2 linked regions of the Homo sapiens genome follow. The protein of the gene in region 1 binds, or shares a complex with, the protein of each later gene. Each region holds a gene or a part of one and is shown on either strand. Other genes may lie near its edges. A codon is read from its position in the direction of its gene.

Region 1 (5,332 bases):
TTGTTGTTGAAAGTCCAGCTTTTTTGAGGTATATTTTAAATGTTTTAAGGATGCTTCTAAGGATCAGTAGTAATTTTTTTAGTTCGCACCTAAAGATGATTACATTGACCTCCCCCGACTGCTTACCAAATTAAAATGTGTCCACGAAGTAGCTTTGTGATCGCAGATACATTCATAGTGAACTCATCAGAATGGCTGGTTTGCAGTACTGAAATACTATCTTCTAGGCTGTATGTAGTGCTACAATTAGAGAAACAGAAGTCCAAGGCTGGCGACAGCTTGAAAAGTCTGACAGCTTTTCTACTTTTCCTGAAAATTTTAAGACTGTGATATCTGTCATTTTACTGTATAGCTGACTGTGTACTCAGGTATTTTATTGGTCCTTGAAAGATTGGTCGTTATGGATCACCCAGCCTTTCCAAGTCAGTGGCTGTTGTTCTGTCTTGCTGTCTGATACGAGAGTGGGGCTTTTCAGTGAACTAACCAGGGATTGTTCTTGACATACCTGACTTTTCTCACATTTGAACTTCCACTATCATTGTATCCATATAACTTCTAGCATTTTCATGCCATGGTAATCCATGAGCTACACATACGTAGCCCGGCACCGTGATGCAAGTTCATGGTATCGTGCATGTTCGTGGTATCATGGTATCATTCATGCGTGTTTGAATAGTTCTACATCTAGTGCTTCTTGCCAAAAAGAATACATTGTTTAAATTCACAAAATTAGCATAATTGCAGTGCTAATGAATATCGGAATATGTGCACAGTAACATTTGGACTATTCATTGGAGAGTTTACCCATACATTTAGCAAATTGAATGGCCAAAACATTTGACTCCAGTGAGGGCTCAAGTTAGATCCCTATAGAAAGAGGACACTTCATCTTACTTAAGTCATAGTTAAGATCTGTGATACGAACCATAGATATTGCCTGACAAAGCAGAAATCACCAAGTTTCCCCCTTTTGAATTACCACCAAGAAGTGTTGAAACACCAAATAGATATCATGTTATTTTGGGCATTTGCAGTTTTCTTCCCTGCTGCATGTAATGTCTCAGAATCAACATTCTTTTAAAATCTAGACTATATTTTGAGGCAATGAATTACTTATATTCAACTTAGGCTTGTTTTGACATTCAGTAGAACTTTAAGTTCAATCTAAAGGCTTCAGTCCACATTTTTTTATACGTTGTATTTTAAAAACGTTTGAAAGGAGTCTTACACCTGTATCATGAAAACTGAATCCTTTTGAAATACCACTATATGAAGAGAGAGATGAAATTTAGTGAACAGAATTGAAAAGGTGCTCATAATTTCACTATGCAAACTTACCCCAGTCTCTAAAAAAGTAATTTAGATTTAAAGTTCTTTGATGTATTTGATTTTCTAAATCTTTATGGTTATGATTTGGAATAAAATGTGCCTAATCCTGTGTTACATTCTGTTCTTAAATCTGAATGCCTTCTCATTTAATTCTGAGGAAATATCACACAAGTGTCTTCATTGACCTTGAAGAAATGTATATACAGTTGCCTTATAAAACAACATAAATTTAGACCATAACTTTTATAGAGAAAGGGTTTTGTCAAATGTTTTCTGAAAATCTGAGTAATTCAAAGCATGCCTCTGCCCCTTTAATATTTTTAATAACCTGCATTGTTGCTGTCTGCCAAATATTAAATTGAAATCTTCATTTCAATTTTATTATCTGGAAAGGGCACTGGATTGCTCTGCAACCAAAGAAAGCAATATGGAATGAAAAAACTCATTCACTTTTGTCTTATTTTCTTTTAAGGTGTATTGGCATGTAATTTGCATAGAGAAGGTCCTCTGGTTAGTCTCTCAAATTGAGGCTGTTTAGGGAAATCCTTATTCAGTTGGTGGCAGTGGTTGGTTTAAAGTAGAAGGAAATAAGATCGCCTTAATACCAGAAATGATTAGAAGTGCTGATTTAGATTCAACAAATACCATATGTCCTTATCATTTTTTGTAAGAAGAAATTGGTTAAGTCCTAACTTTCAATGTGTACCCAAATACTTGTATTTATGCTTTTGATAAAATGTATTTTCAGCATTAATACACATCCGATTATGCCTTATTTATATATGAAGAATAAAGTTACCATGTTACACTGTTATGTCCTAAAATTCAAATCACTATTTGAGAAACCCTCAAATTGGTGCTTTCATTATATAATGATACATTTAGACAAAACCCCAAACTAAGCCATTTGAAACAAGATTCTCTCCATTGCAGTTTGTAGCAATGTTATTTCTGTGTATGTCATGAGAAGGCTAAATATCAGTGTTAATTTCTTGTTTGAATCCGTGAAATCATGCCTGTAAAGCCCAAACATTTGTAACAAACTCCCTAATAAATTTAGAGAAAGTCACTCTGTTACCATTTCATTTATTTTAGTTTTATTTGAGAAATTAAGACCAGAAGTTTTGCTCATGTCTTTTTCACTTGGAAATCTGACTTAGTACCTAGTTAATTTGTCTCTCTCCCATCATTTTAAGGCGTTCGCTTCTGTTAATCACAGATGATCTGTCCTTGTGTTGTGCTGCTTGACTAAAAGCACTGTTTTGTTTTGTTTTGTTTTGTTTTTTAATGATAGGATACAGGGTGGCTTTTCAGTCTAGTAAACATGAGGAGGGGAGAGATTGTGGGTGGGTGTGGGTGTGTCCGCATGTCCCAAATACAGCACATGCCCATTTTTTTATGGTACGAGGTTAGGGCTTATTAATAAATGTATACTAGATCTTGAAGTGTAAGTCTAAGTCTGAACATTTTAAACAAGTTGGACTTTATGGCTTTTTCAAGTTCCATCAAGTAGATACTAGTCTTAGGCTGGTAGGTGATTAACAACATCATTTGGAGTACAGTGTTTGTACCACTAGCATTCTTATGTCTGTACTTGAACGTGTAGTTAGCATTTAAGTTATGTTCACTCTTGTAGCATTCAGGTCTTACCATCTGGTTTCAAATGCGAGAGCTTATATGAACATTGTTTTGAAAGCATGAATGATATGGCAATATTTTATGTCTTGATAAGGAGAGTTTTGTGACATATACAAATCTGCTGTTGATGATGAAAGTTTACAGGTGGATCAGAGTATGCTGGAACTCAGTGTGCATAAAATTTCAGTCAGTGAATATCACTGAACGTCATATACTACTTGGTATGTGACTTTGGTTTGTGTTAAGAAAGCTTGTATATAATATTTTTTGCCATAGTAAGTGAGAAATTGTCCTTAATCATGCCTGTTTGATGGTACTAGGAAAGAAAGGGGTAGAGATTAATTCTTGCACAGTATAAGCAACAGTGCAACAAACTATGCCATTTACCTTTTACCTCTTACTTGAAGGCAGAATCGCAAAACGTTTGAAATGGCTTTTCTAAACTACTCTACTCTGGTGAGAGCTCATTTACCACAAGAAGCCTTATAAAAAAGTATATTTTGTAATAACCCCGTAGATACTGTACCTAACAAAACATGACTCGTATTAGCTCTATAAAATATTTGTGGCTTAGGATTTTTTTTTTACATATATCTTTTTATAACTTTCCAGGAACTAAGCACATTATCTGATAATTGTTGTAAATTTTTTTGTCAGTGCTTTAGTTCAGGATGGGCAATAAATTATTTCTAAAGGAGGTCTAAAAGTGGAAAGAATGGTTTGATTTTATAAAATGAGTTGCTAGTTCATTACAGCTTTTTACTTTTGTACATATTTTGCAAAACATTTGCCTCTTGCTATTAATATTTGCTTTGTAAAAATTACTGACATTTAATAAACATTTGTAAACAATTCAATACTATGATGTTATTTAACAGTTTGGTAATTGTAAAATGTAAAGCAGATACTAAAAGTTTGAAAGCAAAAGTTTCATCTAGGGCCTGAGTTAAGGCACAAATCTACTTCAGCAGAATCCCAATGCCACTTGGCTTGAATATTAGTCTAGAAACTTCTTACTAGAAATGGAGATGTGGACTTCTTCCAAGGAAGTTCTCAGACACTTAATATGTTTTGACAAGGGAATAGGGGAAGAGAAACCACTTGTTTTCTCTGCTCCTCTTATGGCCACTGAAACTGTATTAGGGTGTACCTGAGCTCAGTTCATCCAGCTGCGACAATATTAATAATTCTGTTACGTCTGTTGTAATTAATGTTTGGAGACAAACCAACATTGACCACTCATCTTTTTTAAAAAAATAAACTTCATGTTAGATTATGATTTACAGAAAAATTTCAAGACAGTACAGAGTTCCCCTATACTCCACACCCCTTATAATAGTTCCCGTAGTTACCGCCTTGCATTACTTTGGTACATTTGTCATAATTAATGAACCAATACTGATAACATTATTCACTAAAGCCCATGCTTTGTTCTTGTTTCCTTAGTTTTCCCCTAATGCCTTACTTGTGTTCCAGGATCCATCCAGCACACGACATTACATTCGCTCGTCATGTCTCCTTCAGCTCTTCTTGGTAGTTAACAGACTCCTGTTTATCTCAGACTTTGTTTTTGATTACTTTGGCAGGTGTTTTTTGTTTGTTTTTTCTTTTTGAGACAGGGTCTCACTCCTTTGTCACCCAGGCTGGAGTGCAGTGGCCCGATCTCAGCTCACTGCAACCCCCACCTCCCAGGTTCAAGTGATTCTCCTGCCTCAGCCACCCAAGTAGCTGGGATTACAGGTGCGTGCCACCACACCCAGCTACTTTTTGTATTTTTAGTAGAGACAGAGTTTCGCCATGTTGCCCAGGCTGGTCTGGAACTCCTGAGCTCAAGCGATTTGCCTGCTTCGGTCTCCCAAATTGCTGGGATTAGAGGCTTGAGGACTTTGGCAGTTTTGAGGAGTACTGGTCAGGTATTTTGTAGAATGCCCATCTGTTGAAATTTGGTGTTTTTCACATGATTAGACTGGGTTATGGGTCTGGGAACCAGAGAGAGAAAGTATCATTATCAAATCGTGTCAAGCACACCTTCTGTGGTTACTACTCATCTTTTCCCTTTACGCTTTCCTGCTAAGTTAGCAGTTGTCAAATCACTTGGCATCTTTATGCCTTTTCTTACCTGGCATGTATTGAAAGCTATGGCTGGGCGTGGTGGCTCACGCTTGTAATCCCAGCACTTTGGGAGGCCAAGGCTGGCGGATCACTTGAGCTCACGAGTTTGAAACCAGCCTGGGCAACATGGTGAAATCCCGTCTTTACAAAAATTAGGTGGGCATGGTGGCATGGGCCTGTAGTCCCCCAGCTACTCGGGAGGCCGTGGAAGTTGCAGTGAGCCAAGATCGCGCCACTGCACTCCAGCCCGGGT
Region 2 (7,560 bases), on another chromosome or scaffold:
GGGACCCCTGGACATGGACCTTCCTGGGAGGGACCCCGAGACATGGACCCTCCTAGGCATGGGACTGCCTGGCATGCAGCCTTATATTATTCTGTTTTCATACTGCTATAAGGAACTGCCCGAGACTGGGTAATTTATAAAGGAAAGAGGTTTAATTGACTCACAGTTCAGCATGGCTGGGGAAGTCTCAGGAAACTTACAGTCATGGCGGAAGGCGAAGGGGAAGCAAGGCACCTTCTTCACAACGCAGCAAGAAGAAGTGCCAAGCCAAAGGGGAAGAGCCCCTTATAAAACTGTCAGATTTCATGAGAACTCACTCTCTATCATGAGAATAGCATGGAAGAGACTGCACCCATGATTCAATTACCTGCACCTGGTCTCTCCCTTGACATGTGGGGACTGCAATTCAAGATGAGATTTGGGTGGGGACACAAAGCCTAATTATACCATTCTGCTCCTAGCCCCTTCCGAATCTCATGTCTCTTTTACATTTCAAAACCAGTCATGCCTTCCCAAAAGTCCCCCAAAGTCTTAATTCATTCCAGCATTAACCCAAAAGTCCAAGACCAAAGTGTCATCTGAGACAAGGTAAGTCCCTTCTGCCTACAAACCTATAAAATCAAAAGCAAGTTAGTTATATCCTAGATAGAATGGGGGTACAGGCATTGGGTAAATATACCCATTCCAAATGGGATAAATTGGCCAAAATGAAGGGGCCACAGGCCCCATGCAAGTCCGAAATCCAGGTGGGCAGTCAAAACTTAAAGCTCCAAAATGATCTCCTTTGACTCCATGTCTCACATTCAAGTCAGGCTCATGCAAGAGGTGGGCTCCCATGACCTTGGGCAGCTCTGCCTCTGTTGTTTTTCAGGGTACAGCCTCCCTTCCAGCTGCCTTCACAGGCTGGTGTTGAGTGTCTGTGGCTTTTCCAGGTGCATGGTTCAAGCCATCAGTGGATCTACCATTCTAGGGTCTGGAGGATGGTGGCCTTCTTCTCACAGTTCCAGTAGCAGTAGGCAGTGCCCCAGTGGGGATTGTGTGGGGGGGCTCCAACCCCACATATCACTTCTACACTGCCCTAGCAGAGGTTCTACATGAGGGTTCCACCAGTGCAGCAAACTTCTGTGTATCTGCAGGCCCAACACCACATGTAAGCCACCAAGGCTTGGGGCTTGCACCTCTGAAGCAAAGGTCTAAGCTGTACATTGGCCCCTTTTAGCCACTGCTGGGATGTGGGGCACCAAGTCCTGAGACTGCACAAACCAGCAAGGCCCTGGGCCCCAACGACAAAACCATTTTTTCCTCCTAAGCCTCCAGGCCTGTGATGGGTGGGGTTGCTGTGAAGACCTCTGACATGCCCTGGAGACATTTCCCTCATTGTCTATGCTATTAACATGTGGCTCCTAGTTACTTATGCAAATTTCTGCAGCTGGCTTGAATTTCTCCTCAGAAAATGAGTTTTTCTTTTCTATCCCATAGTCAGGATGCAAATTTTCTAAACTTTTATGCTCTGCTTCCCTTTTAAATGTGAGTTCCAATTCCAAATCATCTCTTTGTGAATGCATAAAATTGAATGCTTTTAAGAGCACTCTTGAATGCTTTGCTGCTTAGAAATTTCTTCTGCCAGATACCCTAAATCATCTCTCTCACATTCAAAGTTCCACAGATCTCTAAGGCAGGGGCAAAATGCTGCCAATCTCTTTGCTAAAGCATAGCAAGAATCACCTTTATTCCAGTTTCCAGCAAATTCCTCATCTCCATCTGAGACCACCTCAACCTGGAATTCATTGTCCATATCCCTATCAGCATTTTGATCAAAGCCATTCAACAAGTCTCTAGGAAGTTCCATACTTTCCCACATCTTTCTGTCTTCTTCTGAGCCCTCCAAACTGTTCCAACCTCTGACTATTACCCGGTTCCAAAGTTGCTTCGACATTTTTGGGTATCTTTACAGCAGCACCCCACTCTCTGTGGTACCAATTTACTGCATTCGTCTGTTTTCATACTGTTATAAAGAACTGCCCAAGACTGGGTAATTTTAAAGGAAAGAGGTTTAATTGACTCACACTTCAGCATGGCTAGGGAGGCCTCAGGAAACTTACAATCATGGCAGAAGGTGAAGGGGAAGCAAGGAACCTTCTTCATAAGACAGTAGGAAGGAGAAGTGAAGGGAAGAGCCCCTTATAAAACCATCAGATCTCATGAGAACTCACTCACTATCATGAGAACAGCATGTGGGAAACAGCCCCCATGATCCAATTGCCTCCACCTGGTCTCTCCCTTGACACATGGGGACTATGGTTATTATAGGGATTACAATTCAAGATGAGATTTGGGTGGAGACACAAAGCCTAACCATATCAGCCCTCCTGGGTATGGACTCTTCTGGACATGGACCTTCCTGGGCATGGACACTTTTAGGCATGGGGCCCTCCTGTGCATGAACTGGCCTGGGCATGGACCCTCCTGGGCATGGGCCTTCCTGGGCATGAGGATCTCATGGGCATGGCCCTTACTGGGCATGGACCCTCATGGGCATGGGGTTCTCCTTGACATGGTCCTTCCTGGGCACAGGGCTCTGTTGTGTATGGGCCCTCCTAGGCATGGACCTTTCTGGACATGAACCCTCCTGGGCATGGACCCACCTCAGCATGGACCCTCCTGGGCATGGAACCTCCTTGACATGGACCCTCCTGGGCTGGACCTTCCTGGGCATGAACGCTCCTTGACATGGGCCCTTCTGGTAATGGATCTTCCTAGGCAGGGACACTCCTGGGCATGAACCCTCCTAGGCATGAATCTTTCTTGACATGGAGCCTCCTGGGCATGGAGCCTCCTGGACAGGGACACTCCTGGACATGTATCCTCCTGAGCACAGGGCCCTCTGTGCACGTGACTCTCCCGGGCATGGGGCCCTCCAGGGCATAAACTCTCCTGGGCATGAACCCTCCTGAGCATGGACCCTTCCAGGCATGGGACCCTCCTGGACATAGACCCCCCCCAACCAGGCATGGACACCCTTGCGTATGGACCCTCCCGGACATGGGACCCTTTTGGGCATAGAGCCCTCCTGGGCACGGGACCCTCCTGGGAATGAGGCCCTCCTGCTCATGGACCATCCTGGGCATGGACCTTCCTGGGCATGGGCCCACCTGGGCATGCACCCTTTTAGGCACAGAGCCCTTATGGGGCTCTCCTGGGCATGGGCCCTCCGGAGCCTGGGTCCTGTGAGATGCCATCAGCCGCATGCTTGTGCCATGTCCCTGCCAGAACATGACTGCCATCTCTCTCCAGTCCTGTGGAACATGGAACAGGGTGGGGCGGTGCCTGTGGACATGCAATATGGGATGACAGGATGGGGTTTGAGCCCAGGCCGTGCTGGCCCACACTCACAGGAGGTCTCTGGAGTGCCCTGTCCTTCCAGCTTGGGTTTCGAGATGCCCTCCATGCAGGAGTACAGGAGAGGCAGAAACCAGCAGGACATCGTGCCTTTACCTGAGTGGGCACCCAACCCCTGCCCCTGCCAGACATGGTTTCCAGCCTTTCCCTGAAGGAAGGAGAAGAGGGCTGGGTTCCTTGACAGACCCTGGCCACCCCCTTCACTGCCACCCACCCCAACCCACCCTCACCTGCTTGACCTTGGTCACCCCCCCTTGCACCGCTGTGCAGCCCCTACATGGAGATCAGCTGCTCCCAGCCCTGTCTTGAGCAAGGAAACCTGGGCTGGGGGCCTCTACTGTGGTCCTGCCAGGAGCTTCCAACAGCCCCTGCTCACGCTCCAGGTGGGTGGGGGTGGGAAGGGGTGAAAGGGTCCAAGGGGGACCTCAAAGTGAAGAGCCCCGAAGGGTCCCTGGAAGATGTCCGCCAGCCCTCTGAGCCACGCGCTCCCTCCCTGCCTCCCACCACACGAGTGCGAAACACAGAGGGCCCCACTAGGACTGACTCTGGGTGGGGAGTTTTATTCCAGCCCCGAGGGGCAGCGGCAGGTGTCATCAAGGCTGCACCCTGGCCAGCAGGAACCCACTCTGGCCAGGTGAGCTGGTTCTGGGGGTGGCAAGTGTGAGGCCCCATCCCGGGGGTCTCTGACATTGGCCTTGCTCTGGCCTCAGTCCTCTTGCCCTTGTCCCTGTCCCTCTCTCTTCCCAAGAGAGCAGGTACCTGGGCCGTCCCTGCCCACCCAAGGCTCCAAGAGAATACACAGTGAGTTCAGGGCTGATCTCGGGCTCCTTGCTACTGGTTCCAGCTTCCCCTGGCAGGCAGCACCTCCCGGAGCCCCCGAGACCTGGCCCACAGCGCCCACAGCACGCCTCTTAGGCGAGGGTCACGCACAGAGAGTCCTGGCTTTTGTGGGCCTTAGCACTGGGAGCCACGGCCAGTGCAGACGCCTCCTGGAACTCCTTGGCCATGTAGTAGTAGCAGATGGCGTCCAGGCAGCAGTTGGCATCTGAGAGCTTGCTGGTTATGTACAGGGCGCGACGGATCGTCTCCAGGAGGGCACAGGCGTTCCAGCCCACTGCGAGGCGCACTGTCAGCCCCACGTGCAGGGGCAGGAAGCAGACCACGAACACCAGGAGGTTGGCCCAGACCATGCGGGCAGCCTTGCGGGTGGCCTCTGCCTGCCCCACGTCGGTGGGTGGCCTCTGGGCCAGGGCAGTCACCACCTTCAGGGAGCAGAAGACCACCACGGCCAGGGGCAGGTAGAATCCCAGCAGCGGGAACGCCATGGAGTTGAAATTGTGCCGGGTGCTCCTGAAGCAGAAGCCGCCCTCCTGAATCCCCAGGAGCCAGCGAGCCACCAGGGAGCCGATGACCAGCACCCAGAGGACCGCGCACACGGCCGCAGCCTGCCTGGGGGACCGCAGCCCGCGGGCACGCAGCGGGTGCCGCACGGCCACATAGCGGTCCACGGCGATGGCCGTGACCAGGCTGATGCTCATGTACCTGTTGGTCAGGTAGATGCCCTGGGAGAGCTGGCACAGCGGCGTGTCTGAGGTGTCTCGCAGGGAGTGCAGCACGAAGGGCAAGGTGCACAGCAGGCAGAGGTCGGCCACCGCCAGGTTGGTCATGTAGATGCGGGTCTCCGTCCACTGCTGCATGCGGCAGCAGAACACCCAGAGCGCCAGGCTGTTGAGCAGCAGGCCTAGCACCAGCAGGACGCCCAAGTAGGCGTAGAAGCCCAGCTTGATCGCTGGGGGCCAGGTGAGGTCGCTGGAGCCACAGGTGTTGTAGGTGCCATTCATGGTCCTGGGGCAGCACAGGGAGCCGGAGGTCAGCAGAGAGTGAGCAGGGGGAGCAAGGCACTGCCCCCACTCTGCCCACCTCTGGGCAGGGATGTGGGAGGAGGTGAGCCCCGACCCCACACCCACAAACACAAAACTCCTCAAAGAAAGCATGGGTGCCGTAAAGAACTCCAAGTCACCCTTGAGGTCTAACCCCTGGACAGATCCTCTTCCCATCTCCTGAGCTCTTCTCTCCTGGGATCTGCCTGCTGTCATGGGGCAGGAAAGGAGGCAGAAGGAGCTCCACGTTCCCCTCCAGTCCCCAGCCCAGCAAGCCCTACCCTCCAGAGCGCAAATCCTGGACAGGGAGCCCAAAGGGCCACCAGCCTTACCCAGCACACAGCTCTTAGCAGGGAGGGCTCAGAGGCAGCAGCACCTGTCAGCCCAAGGACGGGAAGACCAGGCTCCCGGACAAAGCCCAGGGTGGCCCCTCCACCCCTCCTGGCACCCGGCTGCAGGAGGCACCCACATTTGACTCCACACCTGCATCAGCCCTTCCCCACAGCAGAGTCCAGGACAGCTGGGACTCTGGCCTGCCCCTACCTCCCTGTGAGCCCACCCACCCAGTCCTGAGCTCTGGAGGTCCTGCCTGCATCAGCCTGAGGCCCCATCCCAGTCCCACACCTGGGATCAGGGATTCACCCCTTGAGCTCCCAGGGGCCAGAGCCTGTGACGGCAGCCCTGCCCCTTCAGGCCCAGTCGTGCTGCTCAGGGGCCGCCCAGGGGTGGAGCTGAGTATCCTCCTCTCCGTCACTATCAGGACCACCCACAAAGTCACCCCTCCACTGTCCACGCCAGCCTCTCGCTGTCCCCAACACCCTCCGCGACATAGCCCAGGAAGGCTGAGACCAGCCCCGGCTGGACCTGGGCAGGGTCTGGTGTCCAGGACACGGGCTAGAGTCATCCTGACTCGGCCACCCCTGCAGCTGGGCAAACTTGTTTCCTCATCATAAGGGGTGCTGGTGTCACACGCAGGCAGGTGTGAGACGGAGCTGCTGGTGAGCGCCCAGAGTCCAGGACTCACAGCCACACGTCCCACCACCTGGGTTACTCAGTGGGTCCAGGAAGAACCCGGAGGGGTGAGGGCGGGAGAAGCCTCTCCCCCAACCATCAGGCTGTCCTCTGGGGCATCCTGCAGTGGCTTCCTGCTGGGCTGGTATGGAAGGTGGGAAGGACTCAGCCCACAGCGAAGGGCCTTCCTCCTCCCTCTGCCTCCTCCCTCTGCCCAGAGGAGCACAAAAGGTCCCCCAAATCAGGAGGGGAGAGCGCCCAAACCCCGTGACTGCAGCTGCTGGGGACCATTAGTGCTGGGACGCATTTCCCCACGGTGGTCCCCGGGAACTCCAGGTCCCCAGTCCATGAGGGATGGAGGGCACAGGTTTCAGACAGAAACGAAACATTCTGCCCCCTGGCTTCATTCTGTCTCCTTAGATCCCACCTCTGGTGAAGTACAGCAGATATTTGCTGACTTCCAAGTTTCAGGAGCCCTTCCCCCGAGTGCAAAGTGCTGCACGCCCAGTGGTCTCTCTCCTCCCTTCTTGAGGGTCCTGCTTGCTTTCTCTCTGATTCATGAGCAACACTTCACCCTCGTTCCAGGGACTTTTGGAGGGACCCTGAGCCAGGCCAGGCTCCGAGGACATCCCCAGAACCCACTGGAACCAATCGCTGGGATCTTCCCTTCCTGTTGGGCCTATACTCCTGTGGCAGCCCCCGCTGGGGGCCAGGAGATCCCAGAACCTGCTCAGAATCTACACCTCAGAGGCACCTGAGCTGGGCAGGCACTGTGCGTTGGGGAGGGCTCCGTGCGACTGGCCTCCTACTCTCCCCACCTGAGTACTTGAATCCACCAGAAGTCCAGGGCCAGCCTTGGGCGGTGTGCAGACCTGGAGGGGGAGGGGGTCTGCACAGCTAGAGGGCGATTCTTTTGCTGCCCCACCTTGAGTAGAGGCAGCCTGGGACCCTGCCTCGTGGGAGGTGAGGACCCGAGGGCTCGTGTGCCTAGACCCCTTCCCATTGCCCCAGCTTCCCCCATCGCTCCCCATGGCTGCCAAGGGGCTCTCAGGTCACACATACCCAGGGCTGCAACTTTCATACTAGCCTCGGTGTGGCCCAGTATTTTGTGGGGGAATGTTTAACTGCAGGCAGGCACGGTGGCTCATGCCTGTAATCCCAACACTTTGGGAGGCTGAGACAGGAGGATGACTTGAGGCCAGAAGTTTAAGAACAACCTGGGCATCACAGGGAGACCCCGTCTCTACAAAAAAAAAAAAAAAAAAAAAAA

What was found. The genes of interacting proteins can lie anywhere in the genome.
Region 2: the proteins of GNA13 (region 1) and GPR35 are in contact, whole or in part, in a cryo-EM structure (PDB 8H8J), measured with the Homo sapiens proteins. Residues at the interface, in NP_006563.2 of Homo sapiens: Lys46, Arg47, Leu48, Val49, Lys214, Asn215, Val216, Phe218, Arg331, Gln337, Gln338, Lys340, Pro341, Leu342, Tyr343, Phe359, Arg360, Asp361, Lys363, Asp364, Ile366, Leu367, His368, Asn370, Leu371, Lys372, Gln373, Leu374, Met375, Leu376; in NP_005292.2 of Homo sapiens: Phe45 (codon at 5,108), Gln51 (codon at 5,090), Thr53 (codon at 5,084), Thr55 (codon at 5,078), Met59 (codon at 5,066), Asp113 (codon at 4,904), Arg114 (codon at 4,901), Ala117 (codon at 4,892), Val118 (codon at 4,889), Pro121 (codon at 4,880), Leu122 (codon at 4,877), Arg123 (codon at 4,874), Arg125 (codon at 4,868), Arg128 (codon at 4,859), Ala197 (codon at 4,652), Leu198 (codon at 4,649), Arg201 (codon at 4,640), Pro202 (codon at 4,637), Thr204 (codon at 4,631), Asp205 (codon at 4,628), Gly207 (codon at 4,622), Gln208 (codon at 4,619), Ala211 (codon at 4,610), Ala215 (codon at 4,598), Met218 (codon at 4,589), Val219 (codon at 4,586), Ala280 (codon at 4,403), Lys281 (codon at 4,400), Glu282 (codon at 4,397).

Annotation. Positions count from the first base shown.
Region 1 is NC_000017.11:65,007,781-65,013,112, reverse strand, and holds the end of GNA13 (guanine nucleotide-binding protein subunit alpha-13), read left to right. Parts: 3' UTR 1-3,824; downstream 3,825-5,332. UniProt on the Homo sapiens protein: Guanine nucleotide-binding proteins (G proteins) are involved as modulators or transducers in various transmembrane signaling systems.
Region 2 is NC_000002.12:240,627,633-240,635,192, reverse strand, and holds the end of GPR35 (G-protein coupled receptor 35), read right to left. Parts: intron 5,245-7,560; coding exon of another isoform or gene 5,241-5,244; coding exon 4,311-5,240; 3' UTR 2,034-4,310; downstream 1-2,033. UniProt on the Homo sapiens protein: G-protein coupled receptor that binds to several ligands including the tryptophan metabolite kynurenic acid (KYNA), lysophosphatidic acid (LPA) or 5-hydroxyindoleacetic acid (5-HIAA) with high affinity, leading to rapid and transient activation of numerous intracellular signaling pathways.